Linked DNA regions of Homo sapiens: region 2 is linked to region 1. The links come from fine-mapping of genetic effects on gene expression. Tissue or cell type: whole blood. Region 1 holds a variant in brackets; the other region holds the start of a gene. All regions are shown on one strand. Distances are between the middles of the regions.

Evidence for each region. PIP is the estimated chance that this variant, and not a neighbour inherited with it, causes the effect.
Region 2: it holds the start of CDC42BPG, and the variant in region 1 is fine-mapped to the expression of CDC42BPG in whole blood (TOPMed, PIP above 0.99). The same link has a PIP of 0.9 or more in cerebellar hemisphere, sun-exposed skin, thyroid and unexposed skin.

Annotation. Positions count from the first base shown.
Region 1 is chr11:65,022,241-65,030,340 of GRCh38, forward strand. SNX15 (sorting nexin 15) reads left to right here and starts at 5,199. Exons shown (of 8, transcript NM_013306.5): 1 at 5,199-5,396. The coding sequence starts at 5,298. It overlaps ARL2-SNX15 (ARL2-SNX15 readthrough (NMD candidate)), which reads left to right. Exons shown (of 11, transcript NR_037650.2): 4 at 5,078-5,396. It also overlaps the pseudogene EEF1A1P18. RefSeq lists an enhancer at 5,017-5,311 and a silencer at 5,161-5,330. The variant C/T (reference allele first, on the strand shown) is at 5,056.
Region 2 is chr11:64,840,424-64,848,523 of GRCh38, forward strand. CDC42BPG (CDC42 binding protein kinase gamma) reads right to left here and starts at 4,230. Exons shown (of 37, transcript NM_017525.3): 1 at 3,987-4,230; 2 at 1,390-1,481; 3 at 1,227-1,310; 4 at 130-225. The coding sequence starts at 4,146. RefSeq lists enhancers at 1,268-2,080, 2,574-2,868, 2,893-3,705, 7,116-7,185 and silencers at 3,920-3,969, 4,000-4,049, 4,060-4,409, 6,726-6,815.

The DNA.
Region 1 (8,100 bases):
ATCTAGCAGGGGACAGAAAGGAATGGATCATTGGAGTCGATGGTGAACTGTGGCTATGTCAAAGGGATGCAGAAAAAGTTATAGAAGCATGGGACACGGTGCAACTGATTCCATCTGCAGGCTTCCTAAAGGAGGTCACATTAAAGCTGGGAGTAAAGCGCGAGTAGTTTTCTAGGTAGAGGAAGGGGAAGACAGTTCACCAGGGGAAATCCAACTCTCATAGGTATGAATTAGAAAAACAGACACAGCTGCAGACCAGGGCTCCAACTTTTTGCATGGAACATGGGCTGAAATTCAGCTCCCAATTCTCTGTTGCAGCCAGGAACCCATGTGCAGTGGACAACCTGAACAGCTGTACAAGGCCAGCACAGATTCAGGCAGAGGGGATCACAGGACAGGCATGATGAGCAAGGGCTCCGGCTGGGCGCGGTGGCTCACCTGTAATCCCAGCACTTTGGGAGGCCAAGATGGGCGGATCATGAAGTCAGGAGATCAAGACCATCCTGGCTAACACGGTGAAACCCCGTCTCTACTAAAAATACAAAAAATTATCCGGGCGTGGTGGCGGGCGCCTGTAGTCCCAGCTACTCGGGAGGCTGAGGCAGGAGAATGGCGTGAACCCGGGAAGACGGAGCTGGCAGTGAGCCGAGATTGCGCCACTGCACTCCAGCCTGGGTGACAGAGCGAGACTCTGTCTCAAAAAAAAAAAGCAATGGCTCTTGGGAAATGGGGAGGTGCATAGAGTCATGTGTAGGAGAGAGTGCAGCCAGAGGGTGGGAGGGGGGCCACATCAGGCAGGGGTAACTGAGGCCTTCCCTGAAGGCTACAGGAACTCAGAAGCAGTGCCAGGTTGGGAAAGGATAGGAAATGAGGCCACCCCAGGGGTCCAATCCAAGTGGCAAAACTGGCAGATGTTTTCATGGCACAGGGTCCTAGCAGCTGCTTACTCTGCAGGGTTCTGTGTGAAGGGGTGGCCTGTCCCTCCACACCTGTGGGTATATCTCGTCAGGTGGGACGAGAGACTGAGAAAAGAAATAGGACACAAAGTATAGAGAAAGAAAAGTGGGCCCAGGGGACCGGCGCTCAGCATACCAAGGACCCACACTGGGACCGGTCTCTTAGTTTCTTCAGTTTTTATTGATTATTACTTTCACTATCTCAGCAAGAAGAATGTGGTAGGAGAGCAGGGTGATAATAGGGAGAAGGTCAGCAAAAAAACGTGAGCAAAAGAATCTGTGTCATAATTAAGTTCAAGGGGAGGTACTATGCCTGGATGTGCACGTAGGCCAGATTTATGTTTCTCTCTGCCCAAACATCTCAGTGGAATAAAGAATAACAAGGCAGCATTGCTGCCAACATGTCTTGCCTCCCACCATAGGGCGGTTTTTCTCCTATCTCAGAATTGAACAAATGTACAATCTGGTTTTATACCGAGACATTCAGTTCCCAGGTGCAGGCAGGAGATAGTGGCCTTCCTCTATCTCAAGTGCAAGAGGCTTTCCTCTTTTACTAACCCACGTCAGCACAGACCCTTTATGGGTATCGGGCTGGGGGACGGTCAGGTCTTTCTCATCCCACGAGGCCATATTTCAGACTCTCACATGGGGAGAAACCTTGGACAATATCCGGCTTTCCAGGACAGAGGTCCCTGCAGCTTTCCACAGTGCATTGTGCCCCTGGTTTATTGAGACTAGAGAATGGCGATGACTTTTACCAAGCATACTGCCTGTAAACATTTTGTTAACAAGGCACGTCCTGCACAGCCCTAGACCTTAAACCTTGATTCCAAGGCCGGGCGTGGTGGCTCACGCCTGTAATCTCAGCACTTTGGGAGGCCGAGGCAGGCGAATCATGAGGTCAGGAGATTGAGACCATCCTGGCTAACACGGTGAAACCCCGTCTCTACTAAAAATACAAAAAATTAGCCAGGTGTGGTGGTGGGCGCCTATAGTCCCAGCTACTCGGGAGGCTGAGGCAGGAGAATGGCATGAACCCAGGAGGCGGAGCTTGCAGTGAGCCGAGATGGCGCCACTGCACTCCAGCCTGGGCGACAGAGCGAGACTCCATCTCAAAAAAAAAAAAAAAAAACACCTTCATTCCATACAACACATGTTTTTGTGAGCTCAAGGTTGGGGCAAAGGGGTTGGGGCAAAGTGGCTGGGGCAAAGTTACAGATTAACAGCATCTCAGGGCAAAGCAATTGTTCAGGGTACAGGTCAAGATGAAATTTCTTCTATCTTCCCTTTCTACATAGATACAGTAACAGTCTGATCTCTCTTTTCCCTACACTGTTCTAAGTACTACCCATTCCATTCAGCAATACAGTTAGGGACAGCCCTATGCAGTGCCGCCTATCAGGATCCTCTCTTATATGGGACACTAAGGGGTGGCACTGGCGTGGCACTGTACAGAGAGCTCAGGTGCCCCGGGGAACAGATAAGCTCTCCCAGGGGCCGGGGAGGCTTCCTGGATGGGCTGACCCTTGAGCAGGGAGGGAAGGGTCTGCGGTCACTGGCCACCACCAGCACCTTTGTTCTCCCAAGCCCTGCATCTGGACTCTCTGCAGCCACCACTGGTACGTCAAGGGCTGCAGCCCCACTGCTGGGGAGAACCCACTGCCTGGCATTGACTGGCTCCTGGATGACATTTCCTCCAGAAGGTTAAGTGCAATCTCTGCCTGCCGGGTTCAAGCAACTCTCCTGCCCCATTCTCCCGAGTAGCTGGGATTATAGGCACCCGACACCACACCTGGCTAATTTTTGTATTTTTAGTAGAGATGGGGTTTCATCATGTTGGCCAGGCTGGTCTTGAACTCCTGATATCAAGTAATCCGCCCGACTTGGCCTCCCAAAGTGCTGGGATTACAGGCATGAGCCACTGCACCTGGCCCCCAGCTAATTTTTAAATTTCTCATGAAATCAGAGGCAGCCTGTTGCCCAGGCTGGTCTTGAACTCCTGGCCTCAAGTGATCCTCCCGCCTTGGCTTCCCAAAGTGCTGGGATTACAGGCATGAGCCCCATGCCAGGCTTTGCTTCTTTCTGAAGACCAAGGCACCGCACCTGTACACCTGAATTCCAGGAACAAGAGTGGCTATTCACAATGCTTCCTCTGCAGTAAATACTATGTGTTGTATGTAAGCCTACCAACTTCATGCTGCATTTCAACAGATTTTTGCTTCAATTCTAACACTGACTGGAGCAAAGGTCTCAAAACCCATGCCAGGTTTGGGAACACCAGTCTCCACGTGGCCCACACTGACAGTACCAATACCACCAATTTTGTGGACGTCTGGAGGGGCAGAACCAAGAGCTTGTGAGTTGGTGGTAGGATGTGATCTAGAGCTTCCGAGCAGCGTGGTTCCACAGCATCGCCATCTTTACAGGTGACTTTCCATCCCTTGAGCCAAGGCATGTGAGCTCTTGGCTCCCGCCTGTTGTGACCACTCCAACCAGATATTGGCACAAATACTACTATGTCAGAGTTGTAGCCAATTTCTTAATGTAGGTGCTGATTTCCTTAATGATTTCTCCCATCTCTCCTTTTTTTTTTTTTTTTTTTTTTGAGACGGAGTCTCACTCTGTCCTCTGTCTCCCAGGCTGGAGTGCAGTGGCACGATCTCAGCTCACTGCAACCTCTGCCTCCTGGTTTCAGGCAATTCTCTGCCTCAGCCTCCCAAGTAGCTGGGATTACAGGCACCCGCCACCATGCCCAGCTAATTTTTGTATTTTTAGTAGAGACGGGGTTTCACCATCTTGGTCAGGCTGGTCTTGAACTCCTGACTTCCTAATCCACCCACCTCTGCCTCCCAAACTGCTGGGATTACAGGCGTGAGCCACCACGCCCGGCCCCCATCTCTCCTCTTTAGGGTGGCTCATTGGGATCCATTTTGTTAACACCAACAATTAGTTTCACACCCAGCGTGTAAGACAGAAGGGTGTGCTCACGCGTCTGCCCATTCTTGGAATTACCAGCTTCAAATTCATCAACACCAGCAGCAACAATCAGGACAGCACAATTAGCCTGAGGTCAGGTTTTTGATAAAGTCTCTGCATCCTGGGCCATTGAGGATGGTCACATAGTACTTGCTGGTCTCAATTGCCAGCAGGGAGGTATCAGTGGTGATACCACTCTCACGTTCAACTTTCAGCTTACCCAAGACCCAGGTATGCTTGAAGGAGCCCTTTCCCATCTCAGCAGCTTCCTCAAAATTGTCGATGGTTCTTTTGTGGATCCCACCACACTTGTAGATCAGATGGCCAGTAGTGCTGGACTTGCCCAAATCAGATGATGATGTTGAGCTGAGTCTTTTCCCTCCCCTGCTCCCTTTCTTTTGAGATGGAGTCTCACTCTGTTGCCCAGGCTGGAGTGCAGTGGTGTGATTGCAGCTCACTGCAGCCTCAACCTCCTGGGCTGAAGCCATCAGCCAGCTCAGCCCCTGGAGTAGCTGGAATTACAGGCGTGCGCCACCACGCCCAGCTAATTTTTGTATTTTTAGTAGAAACGGGGTTTCACCATGTTGGCCAGGCTGGTCTTGAACTCCTGACCTCAAGTGATCCACCTGCCTCCACTGCCCAAAATGCTGGGATTACAGGCGTGAACCACCGCGCCAAACCCCCATTTTGGCTTTGATTTAACGGTGGTTTTCACGACACCTGTGTTCTGGCAGCAAACCCATCGCAAAAAAGCTCCACTGCCCTACACAGATTCTATTATAAACATCTCCATTCTACAGATGAGAAACTGAGGCTGAGTAGTTAAGGGAAACTCCTACAGCTAGTAAGAGTCGTGACTCAGAGCCCATGACACCATCCTGCTTCTCCAACCTTCTTTGCTTCCTCTACTTTCCAGAAAACATGAATTAGGGAATCCTGTGGAGGGAGACAGGGAAATAATTTGACGTTGTCCTGTACATACTGGACACAATAAGAGTTGGGTGGATGAACGAAAGCAGGGATTTAGGAAGCGGGGAGAAGTCGTTTGGAAGTCTGTGACAAGGGTTTACGCTTGGATAGGGTGGGCTTGATCACCCGGCAGAAATGAGACGAGTGATCCCAG[C/T]CTTCCCAACCAATCTTTCCAGTGACCTGGGTTTACGCTTCACCACAGAGAAGGAACTTTTCAGACGCTCCCTTGGCCGCGCACCCGGGATCGGAACAGCGCTGTCACTTGCGACAAAATCCCTAGGCCAGAGGAAGAAGAGCGCAGGCCTGGCGAGGCGGCGGCGGGCGGAGGCTGGGCCGGAGGGGTGGGGACGGCGAGGAGGTGGAGGCCGGCGCTCCGCTCCGCTCCAGCTCGGTTTCATGTCCCGCCAGGCGAAGGATGACTTCCTGCGGCACTACACAGTGTCGGACCCCAGGACTCACCCCAAGGGCTACACCGAGTACAAAGTAACCGCGCAGGTGAGGTGGGGCCCAGCGCGTACTTTACCCTTTTAACTAGAGGGGCGCCGAGTTTTACCTTAAGGAAAGGCGGTGCAGCCACTGCTCCCTTTTTAGACGACAGAAATGGGTTTCCCCTTTAAGGGGAGGTTGCAGTACGAGGCTTAGTTTACATCTTTAACCACCAGGGGGCGGGGTCCTGGGTGGGCGCTGTCTTTTTTAAAAGGGCGTTGACGGCCGTTCCCGGACAGGCAAGGCGTGTATGCCCACGCCCGGAGTGTAGTGTCTGGGCATCAGGCTGTGAATTTCTCTAAATTAACATGAAAACTCTGGTTTAATCCAAATATTAGTACTCCATTCTCGTAGAGTAAGTTTTGTTTATTGGTTTGTTTGATGTTACATAAACTCCCTTTAACGAGTTTAACCATTTTTAATTTTTCAAAAAATAATACTGATCAGTGGTTGAAAAAAATTGATGCAGTTCAGAAGGACTTAAGGAGTAAGTCGCCATATCAAGGTCACAGCAGGAAGATAGATAGGCTAGAGTTGATATATGAAGCGATAACAACATCATAAGCACAATTTATAGAGAGACATGGAGGAAACCATGACAATAATTAAAAATGAAACAGTAAAACAGGACACCTGTAGAATGATAACAAGAACTGGTAACAAGGAAGGTCCCCAGGGAGAGGAACTGTGTCACTGGGGACAGGAGTTAGGGGAAGACTTTTTACTGTAAATTTTTTGTACTTTTAGAATTTTCAACCAGGCGACTATTAAGCTGGTGCATTAGTTAACTCTAAAAGCAAAGCAGGCACATAAGGACACTTCCAAAGTGATCTAAGTGCAGAATCTTAGCTATTTAAAATATGCTTTCCCCAAACCGTTTACGTCTTTTCCATGCCTAAAAATAATGCAAATAAGGCCGGGCTCAGTGGCTCATGCCTGTAAATCCCAGCACTTTGGGAGGCTGAGGCAGCAGATTGCTTGAGCTCAGGAGCTCAAGACGAGCCTGGGCAACATAGTGAGACCCCGGATCAATATTAAAATACAGACACACACACAACTTTAAAAAAAAAAAAAAAAAAAGCAAATAAATAGATTGTCCCTGGGAAGATAGACTGGAGGTGGGGCTGGGGTGGGGAGGATGTGGCAAGGAACTGTAACCTTTTATTATAAGTCTTCCCAGTGGTGGCCGGGCGCGGTGGCTCACGCCTGTAATCCCAGCACTTTGGGAGGCCGAGGCGGGCGGATCACGAGGTCAGGAGATCGAGACCATCCTGGCTACCATGGTGAAACCCCATCTCTACTAAAAATACAAAAACTTACGGGCGTGGCAGCGTGCACCTGTAGTCCCAGGTACTCGGGAGGCTGAGGTAGAAGAATGGAGTGAACCCGGGAGGTGGAGCTTGCAGTGAGCCGAGATTGTGCCACTGCACTCCAGCCTGGGAGACAGAGCGAGACTCCGTCTCAAAAATATAAATAAATAAATAAATAAATAAATAAATAAAAATAAGTCTTCCCAGTGGCTTTTTTGTGTCGTTGTTTTGTTTTGTTTTTGAGACAGAGTCTCACTGTCGCCCAGACTGGAGTGAAGTGACTCGATCTCAGCTCACTGCAAACTTCCGTCGCCCGGGTTCAGATTCTCCCACCTCAACCTCCCAGGTAGCTGGGACTACAGGCACGCGTCACCATGCCCAGCTAATATTCGTATTTTTTGGCAGAGATGGGGTTTCACCATGTTGGCCAGAATGGTCTCGATCTCTTGACCTCATGATCCACCCGCCTTGGCCTCCCAAAGTGCTGGGATTACAGGTGTGAGCCACCACACCCGGCCTCCCATTGGCTTTTTAAACCAAGCAACATGCATTACTTTGATATATTTTTATACATATTATATAATACAATGTATTATATATAATAAATATAAAATATAAAGCACATAATATATAAATATATGTATGTATATATTTTTTGAGACGGAGTCTTGCTCTGTCGCCCAGGCTGGAGTACAGTGGTGTGATCTCAGCTCACTGTAGCCTCCACCTCCTGGGTTCATGCAGTTCTCCTGCTTCAGCCTCCTGAGTAGCTGGGATTATAGGCGTGTGCCACCACACCCGGCTACTTTTTGTGTTTTTAGTAGAGACGGGATTTCACTGTGTTGGCCAGGCTGGTCTCGAACTCCTGACCTCAAGTTATCCTCCCACCTCGGCCTTCCCAAGTGCTGGAATTACAGGTGTGAACCACCGCGCCTGGCCTATATTTTTATTTTATTTTATTTTATTTGCGACGGGGTCTTGCTCTGTCACCCACGCTGGTGTGCAGTGGCATGATTCACGTCTTACTGCAGCCTCAAGTTCCTGCATTCAATCCATCCTCTTGCCTCAGCCTCCTGAGTAGCTGGGACTACAAGCATGTACCACTACGCCTAGCTCAATTTTTAAATTTTTTGTAGAGGCTGGGCGTGGTGGCGCACGCCTGTAATCCCAGCACTTTGGGAGGCCAAGGCGGGTGGATCATGAGGTCAAGAGATCGAGACCATTCTGGCCAACATGGTGAAACCCCGTCTCTACTAAAAGTACAAAACGTAGCTGGGCATGGTGGCGCTCACCTGTAGTCCCAGCTACTCGGGAGGCTGAGGCAGGAGAATTGCTTGAACCCGGGAGGCAGAGGTTGCAGTGAGCCGAGATCACACCACTGCACTCCAGCCTGGTGACAGAGT
Region 2 (8,100 bases), 180 kb before region 1:
GGAACTGGTGGGAAGTGGGAGTCTCTTGGTCCCAAGAGGGGTCTCTCTTTGGGCCCAGTGCCCCTGGCCCCAAGGGCCCTCTCCTGTGTCCCTAGGATGTTCCCCTCCAGCCCCGCCACGTATCCTCACCAGGTACTCCTCGTCTTGGAAGGCATAGTGCAGAGTGGTCACCCAACGGCTGTCCCCTTTCACGAGCACATCCCGCTCCTCCCGGAAACAGGCTGTCTGCAGCAGGTTTGGGGAAGTAAGGGGTGGGGTGGGATCAGAGCCCAGGATGCCCCCCTTGCCAGCTCAGGGGATGGAGAAAGATTCTGTGAGTCTGGGAGCTCAGATGGAGGTCATAGCTCTACTGTCCCCTGTCTGGCTGCGACTGAGCCCAAGCCCACGCTCTACAGCTCTGGGCCTCAGTGTGACCATATGGAAAATGGGAACGACTCTGCTTGCTTTCAAAAGGGTTTATTAGGCCTGTAATCCCAGCACTTTGGGAGGCCAAGGCAGGCAGATCACTTGAGATCAAGAGTTGGAGACCAGCCTGGCCAATGTGGTGAAACTCCATCTCTACTAAAAATACAAGAAACTTAGCTGGGTGTCGTGGCACACGCCTGTAATCCCAGCTACTTGGGAGGCTGAGGCATGAGAATCCCTTGCACCCAGGAGGTGGAGGTTGCAGTGAGCCGAGATCACGCCACCGCACTCCAGCCTGGGTGACAGAGTGAGACTCTATCTTAAAAAAAAAAGTTTATTGTAGGCTGGGCACGGTGGTTCACGCCTGTAATCCCAGCACTTCGGGAGGCCAAGGCAGAAGGATCATCTGAGGTCAGGAGTTCGAGACCAGCCTGTCCAACATAGCAAAACCTCATCTCTACTAAAAATACAAAAATTAGCTGGGTGTGGTGGCAGGTGCCTGTAATCCCAGCTACTCGGGAGGCTGAGGCAGGAGAATTACTTGAACTGGGAGGCGGAGGTTGCAGTGAGCCAAGATAGCACCGTTGAACTCCAGCCTAGTTGACAGAGCAAGATTCCGTCTCAAAAAAAAAAAAAAAATTTAAAAAATTAAATAAAGGGTTTATTGTGAGAAAGATAACAAATCAGTGGCTGCTGAGGGTGGCACCCTTTGCCTGGTCTGCAGCCTTGCCCGCCCCCCCCGCGCCATAGGCCCTGGCAGCATACACCTCCCCCACACCCATTTGTAGGGTGCCCAAGGGCCCCCCAGACTCCACACTGACCTCAGCCCTCTTCAGCATCTCCCACTTGTGCAGCATTTTCATGGCAAAAATCTGCCCAGTGTCCCTCTGCCTCACCACGGTGACCTAAGGCCACAGGGAGGACCGGGGTGAGCCCAGCCCGGTGTGAACACCTCCCCCCACCTACCCCAGGCCCTTTGCTCACCTCCCCAAAGGCTCCTCGGCCGATCACCTTCAAGATCTCAAAGTCATCTCTCTGCAGACGCAGTTCTTTCACCTTTGATACGAAGGGGCTGGCTGAGGGGACACAGGGCGGGACTCAGAGTGCAGGGAGGGAGGGCTCCATTCCCCCTCTCACCTTGGGCAAGCCAGGAGCTGCCGCTCCTGTGAGCCCAGGCAGGGATGACCTCCCCAGGGACAGCCTCGGGCCAAGGGGTTGTGGCAGGAACTGGTGCTCCTTTGGCCATGATCAGGAAGTGCGGAAGGTCAGAGGCCGGGCTCAGCTGACCGCCTGGTCCCTGGACCTCCCTGGACCCCTGGCCCCAGACTCTAGGCAGCCTCCATCCCAGGGGCTGATGGGACTTGTAGTCCTGCCCAGTCTGCGGCCTGACTCTGCTTGGCCAGGTCACCCTGGGGACCATGGGGACACCATTCCTACCCCCACCTCACAGTTCTTGGCCCCCTCACAGGTTCAGGCCAGGGCCTGTCTTAGGAAACTGGACGGGTGACATTCCTTATCCCCAGAGAGGCTTCTCTCCCATTCAGGAGCTGTGGGCCTGGGTCCCGGGACCCTGTAGGCATAGAGGTGCCTGGTTGGGGGTGAGGCCTGCAGCCCCTAGGGCAGGGAGGACAGGCTCTATGCTTCCCACGTGGGGCCCCTCAGGCTGGAGGCATGGATGCCAGTCTGCCAAGGTGCTGAGACTCACAAACAGGACAAAGATGCCTTTCCCTGGTGCTAGCACTAGCCCCTGAAGGCGTGAGTGCTCAGGATGCCTCCAGGCCTGACCGGCTCTCTCACTCCCAGCCCTGCCTCCCTGTCTGGACGAAGCTTTTGTCTGGTCAAGAACGTCCTCTTTCCTCACATCCCAGATACCTCCAGGAAGGGCAACTCCAGCCACTCCCAGGCACTTTCCAGGCCTGGATTAGCCCCAGGTTTTGGGAAGGAATTGGGTCTTAGGGAGGCAGGAGTGATCAGTCAGGATGGGGGGCAGCTGTGGTCTGGCGCCCTGCCTCAGTTTCCCCCTGCCAGGAGGTAAACTCCCTGCCAGCTGGGCGGGTCTGTGGGTGGGACAGAGAGCTGTTCCACAGGTTTATCAGGCAGAAGCCCGCAGCGGGGGCGGGGTGGAAACCTCATTACAGAAATTCATTGTCTCTTTCCCAGGTCTGTGTGTGGAGCTGGGGAGGAGCAGCCCCGGGCCTCCCCGTGGGAGTTGAAGCCAGCACCATAGGGACCCACCCGCCAGAAGAGGGCCGAAGCCCAGGCCCACAGGCAGGAGGATCCAGGCCCCTGGACAGGCTGCCTAATCCTCTGGCCTCCCACAGGGCATGGGGGCTCCGGGCAGGAGCAGGGACAAGTAGAGACAAGCAGGAGAGGAATGAGTCACAGCCCTTTGAGTTACCTTGGGAGATTGTCAACAGAGGGCCCCCATGCCGGGGTCCCAGGCAGAGGTGCTGGAGGCAGTCAGGGAGGAGCACACATGTGTGTGCAAACACACACACGTGTGTGGGTGTCATGGGGGGGGTGACAACAACACAGGCAGACAGGCATAGCACGGAGGCATACCAGGGAGACAGGCACAGAGGCAGGGGCCTCTGACTGCCTCGCCCTGGATGGAAGGGTTGGGGCTAGGGGACAACTCCCTGGCACATCTAGGTGGCAGCCTCCCCCTCTACCCCAGGCCTTGTGCCTTCCCAGAGCTCAGGAGTGCCAGGAACGCTAGTTGCCCACTGGGCAAACACCTGCCTCACCCCGCCCTGGCCAGGCCCCCGTGCCTTTTCCCCATGGCCCGGCAGGGTGTGACCAGGGAACCCTCCAGCTGGCGCCAGTGCCCACAGTGGGTTCAGGGTCACCCCGGGCCAGCCACTCCCAATGACTCAGATGAGTCTACCAGGAAAGGTACAGACCCATCTCCAGCTAGGCCCCCCTCCCCGGCCCCGGCGCCACAGCCCCCAAGGAGCTTGGCCAGCAGCCTGCACAGGCCAAGGGTTGGAGATCGGTTCCTGAGTCCAGGCTGCAGTGGTCTTGTACCCAGGGAGCTGGGGGTGTGTGTGTTGGTGGGGGGAAGGTCTGCAAGTGTGCGATACCTACAGATCTGTGTGTTTTGCAGTGCCAATGCGGTCGGGGTGGTCTGCAGCGCTCCCTGGGTCTCTCCATGAGTTGTGTGTCTCAATGCATCCGAGAGGAAGGAGAAACAGAGCCCGTGTATCAGTGGGTGACATGCATGAGGGTCTGTGTGTGTCCTGCGTCAGGTGTGGCCTGTAAGCAAGGAAATCTGTAAGGGACTCTAGGCGGTGCACTGGGTACATGCGTCTGCGGTCGATACCTGAGCACAAGTTGGTATGTGTGTGCATGTGTCGGGGTCTGTGAGAGGGAGAGAGCGTGTGTGAGAATTGGAGTGAGGGTGAGGTGTGCAGGCGAGTGTGCGGGCCGCGGGGGTCCGGTGGTACGCGTCAGGGCCACTGCAGGGAGTCTGCGAGGGAAGCCCGTGGGGGTGCGGGTCCCTGCGGGAAAGTCTGCGGGTGCGGGGGTCTCGGCGCGATATCCCTAGGCCCGCCCCCGCTCCGTGCCGCCCCGCCACTCACCCCAGCTCAGGAACTGCGCCACGCTGCGCTCCCGCCGTAGGGGGCCGCTGCTGAGCTCGTGGTGCAGCGCCAGCAGCAGATCTAGGAGGCCGTCGAGCCCCGGGCAGCCGCCGGCCTCGCCCCGCGCCAGCTGCTCCAGCGCGCGCAGCCGCCGCTCCATGGCTGCGGCCGGAGCCTCGCTGCTCGGCTACAGTCTGGCCGCCCGCATGCCCGCCTGTCGGGCCGTCCGTCCGCCCAACCGTCTGAGGCTCTGTCCGCGCGTCCTCCCCCGCCCCTCTCCCGCCCTCCCCGCTGTCACCTTCCTCCGCCGCCGCCAGCGCGCCCTCACCTGGGCGCCGCGCCCCGCCCCCCGACGGACGGGCAGGTGCGCGCCGGCCAATGGGAGCCGCGGCTAGAGGTGAAGGTGGGGGCGGAGGCGCGCGGGGGCGGGCCCAACTCCCGGCCAGGAAGTGCGGGGGCGGGCCGGGGAGAACAACTGACTTCTGCGCGGGGCGCGGTGGGGTTCTGCGGGGTCGGAAAGACTCCCCAGATCCCCGCGCGGCCCCAGACCCAGACTTACCTGGGCCCTCCCTGGGCCCTGACCCAGGAGGCGCGGAGCACTGCAACTTCTCTCGCCCCCTGGGTCGCAGCCGCCTTGCCCTTGGCTAAGAGAGAGGGGCTAGGGACGCCCGCGGCCCCGGAGCCGGATGGGAATTGTAGTTCGCTCTCTCCATGGTTTGCCCGCGCTTGGCACCCATCGCCCCCCCGCCCCCGCCCAAAAAAAAGTTTCTGAATCTTACTTTGATTGTATCATTAGAGTTGATGTGGGAGACAGGAAGTTGGGGTAGGGATGGTCACGCCCATTTGGCAGATGGACACACTGAGGCTTGGGAAGGAGGAAGGCGAATTGAGGGGCTGAGGACAAGGTGGCTCTTAAGTTAGACCCTGGGGTGGAGGTGGAGCTGGGCTGGTACCAACACCACAGGCGTTTTAAGCTTCAGTAGGAGCAGGGCCTGAGGTCTGACCTGGAACGTGAAGGGCAAGGAGAGGTCTGAGATAGGCTGGAGGAGGTTGGGGAGGGGAGGGGCTGGCTCTGTCCAGTGGTATTTCTGATTTCTGTCCAGCTGGGATGGACCAGGCACCATGAGGAGAGATCAAAGGGTGGGACATATTGGTGGCTTCAGACAACACTTTTTTTTTTTTTTTTTTGAGACAGGGTCTCTCTGTCACCCATGCTGGAGTGCAGTGATGCAATCATAACTCACTGCAGCCTTGACCTCTTAGGCTCCTGCCTCAGCCTCTTGAGTAGCTGGGATTACAGGCAGATGCCACCACACCCAGCTGATTTTTTATTTTACTTTTTGGAGTCAAGGGTTATTGTTATGTTGACCAGGCTGGTCTCGAACTCCTGGGCTCAGGTAATCCTCCCACCTTGGCCTCCCGGAGTTCTGGGATTACAGACATGGGCAACTACACCCGGCCTAGACAACACTTCTTTCTCTTTTTTGAGACAGGGTCTCACTCTGTCCCCTAGGCTGGAGTGCAGTGGTGCAATCGTAGCTCACCACAGCCTCAACCTCCTGGGTTCAAGTGATCCTCCCACCTCAGCCTCCCGAATAGCTGAGACTACAGGCTCACACCACTAGGCCAGGCTGATGTTTTGTTTTTTGAGATGGTGTCTCACGCTGTCACCCAGGCCAGAGTGCAGTGGCACGATCTCGGCTCACTGCAACCTCTGCCTCCCAGGTTCAAGAGAGTCTCCTGCCTCAGCCTCCCAAGTAGCTGGGATTATAGGCATGTGCCACCACACCCAGCTAATTTTTGTATTTTTAGTAGAGATAGGGTTTTGCCATGTTGGCCAGGCTGATCTCAAACTCCTGACTTCAGGTGATCCTTCTGCCTCGGCCTCCCAAAGTGCTGGGATTACATGCGTGAGTCACTGGGCCCAGCCATGTTTGTATTTTTTATAGAGATGGGGTTTCGCCATGTTGCCTAGGCTGATCTCAAACTCCTGGACTCAAGTGATCTGCCTGCCTCAGCCTCCCAAAGCGCTGGGATTACAGGCTGTAGCCACTGGCCAACACATTATTTCATTAAAAGACCTGTTTAGGGGTTTGCCTCTCCTCTCGTACTGGGACCTCGCTGAGATGGGGGCAGGATCAGGTTGAGGGAGGAGGTGTTCCATGAATGTTTGAAGCAAACAGGGTGTTTCTCCCCACGAAGGGTTTTTCATGTGATTATTTGTTTATTTATTTATTTATTTTAAAGAGACAGGGTTGCACTATATTGCCACGTTGGCCAAGCTGGTCTGACCTCAGGTGATCCGCCCACCTCGGCCTCCCAAAGTGCTGGGATTACAGGCATGAGCCACCATACCCAGCCTTTTTTTGAGACAGGGTCTTGCTCTGTCACCCAGGCTGGAGTGCAGTGATGCAATCTCAGCTCACTGCAGCCTCAACATACTGGGCTCAAGTGATCCTCCCACCTCAGCCTCCTGAGTAGCTGGGACCGCAAGCCTGCACCACCACGCCTGGTTAATTTTTAATTTTTTTTTTAGAGCTGGGGTCTCTCTACATTGCCCGGGGCTGGTCTCAGACTCGCCCTGCCTCCCATGTGATCTCCCCAGAGGCCCGCCCTGTAGCTACGCAGGGCCCATGGGCTGAGAAATGTTTGGGGAAACAGAGTCTGGGTGTATTACCTAAATCAACCAGAATGGGATGGGGAGCCAGGATTCAAACCAAACTCTGGGGATCCCCTTCATTGCCTCTGGTCTCCTGGAAGGGGGAGGGGGCAGGAGTTCAGATCCCTCTCACCTGAGAGATTCTGAGCCCTCCTTATAGGGGCGGGGCAGGGGTGGAGCCCACAGGAGGTAGGAAGGGGCTTGCTCACTGAGGCCACACGGGGGCGCCAGAGACCAGAGGAGGGACAGGCGCTCCAGCCAGCATTAGGGAACCGGAGATAGGGAAGGGCTCCTGGGTGGGAAGATGGGCCTCTCCTCCGCTGCCCCTCGTGGACACCCCTGGTGAGGCCTCTGGGCCCTGCCTCACTCCCTGTGTGACCTCAGGCAAGTCCCTTAACCTCTCTGGTAAGTTCTCAGAAAGGTTCATCCCCAGCCATCTGTCCATCCCCACACAGTATAGCTGAGTGGACACTGAGTCCCAGGGCTGAGGCCAGGGCTGCACGGGGCAGGGCTGGGACTGGCATTCGGCACCTCCCGCCTCTCACACGTGATTCTTTCTGGTCCTTTATTAGTTTTTGTCACATCTGTCTTGTAAGCCTCAATTTCCTTGTCTGTAAAAGGGGGTTGGGTCCGGGCATGGTGGCTCATGCCTGTAAGCCCAGCATTTTGGGAGGCCGAGGTGGGAGGATCACTTGAGCCCAGAAGTTCAAGATCAGCCTGGGTGACATAGTGAGACCTCATCTCTACAAACGAACTTAAAAATTAGCTGAGTGTGGTGGTGAGAGCCTGTAGTTCCAGCTACTCGGGAGGCCAAGGTGGGCGGATCACTTGAGCCCAGGAATTCAAGACCAGCCTGGTCAACATGGCAAAACCCTGTCTCTACTAAAAATACAAAAATTAGCCTGGAATGGTGACACACACCTGCAGTCCCAGCTACTCGGGAGGCTGAGAAAGGAGAATCACTTGAACCTGGGAGGCAGAGCTTGCAGTGAGCTGAGATTGTGCCACTGCACTCCAGCCTAGGTGACAGAATGAGACCATGTCTCCAAAATAAATAAATAAATAAAAATAAAGGGGGAGGGTTGGGCCCCCTGCTCATTCCTTTGCAGCTCCAATGGAAGGAAGTCTGTAAAGGCTCAGTCTCTTTCTGAGCTTATTCCAGCCTTAGCAAGCAGCCAGGCCTCCAGCCCTGACTGCCCGAAGCAGCTCCAGGGCATGGCACCATGTTGGCTCAGCAGATCTGTTTTCTGATCCTGTGGGGCCAGACCACTAGGGCCACAGCAGCCTTGACACGCTCCCCACAGAGCCCTGAGCATGGCACAGCCCAAGGCCCAGCTCACAGGGATGGGTGAGTCTTGACAGGAGACACCCCCGAGAGCCTCAGTCACACCCTGTCCAGGCAGTCAGGCCACCCTCTTTCCTTTCCTTCTCACCAGGGTACCTTCATTCAAATGC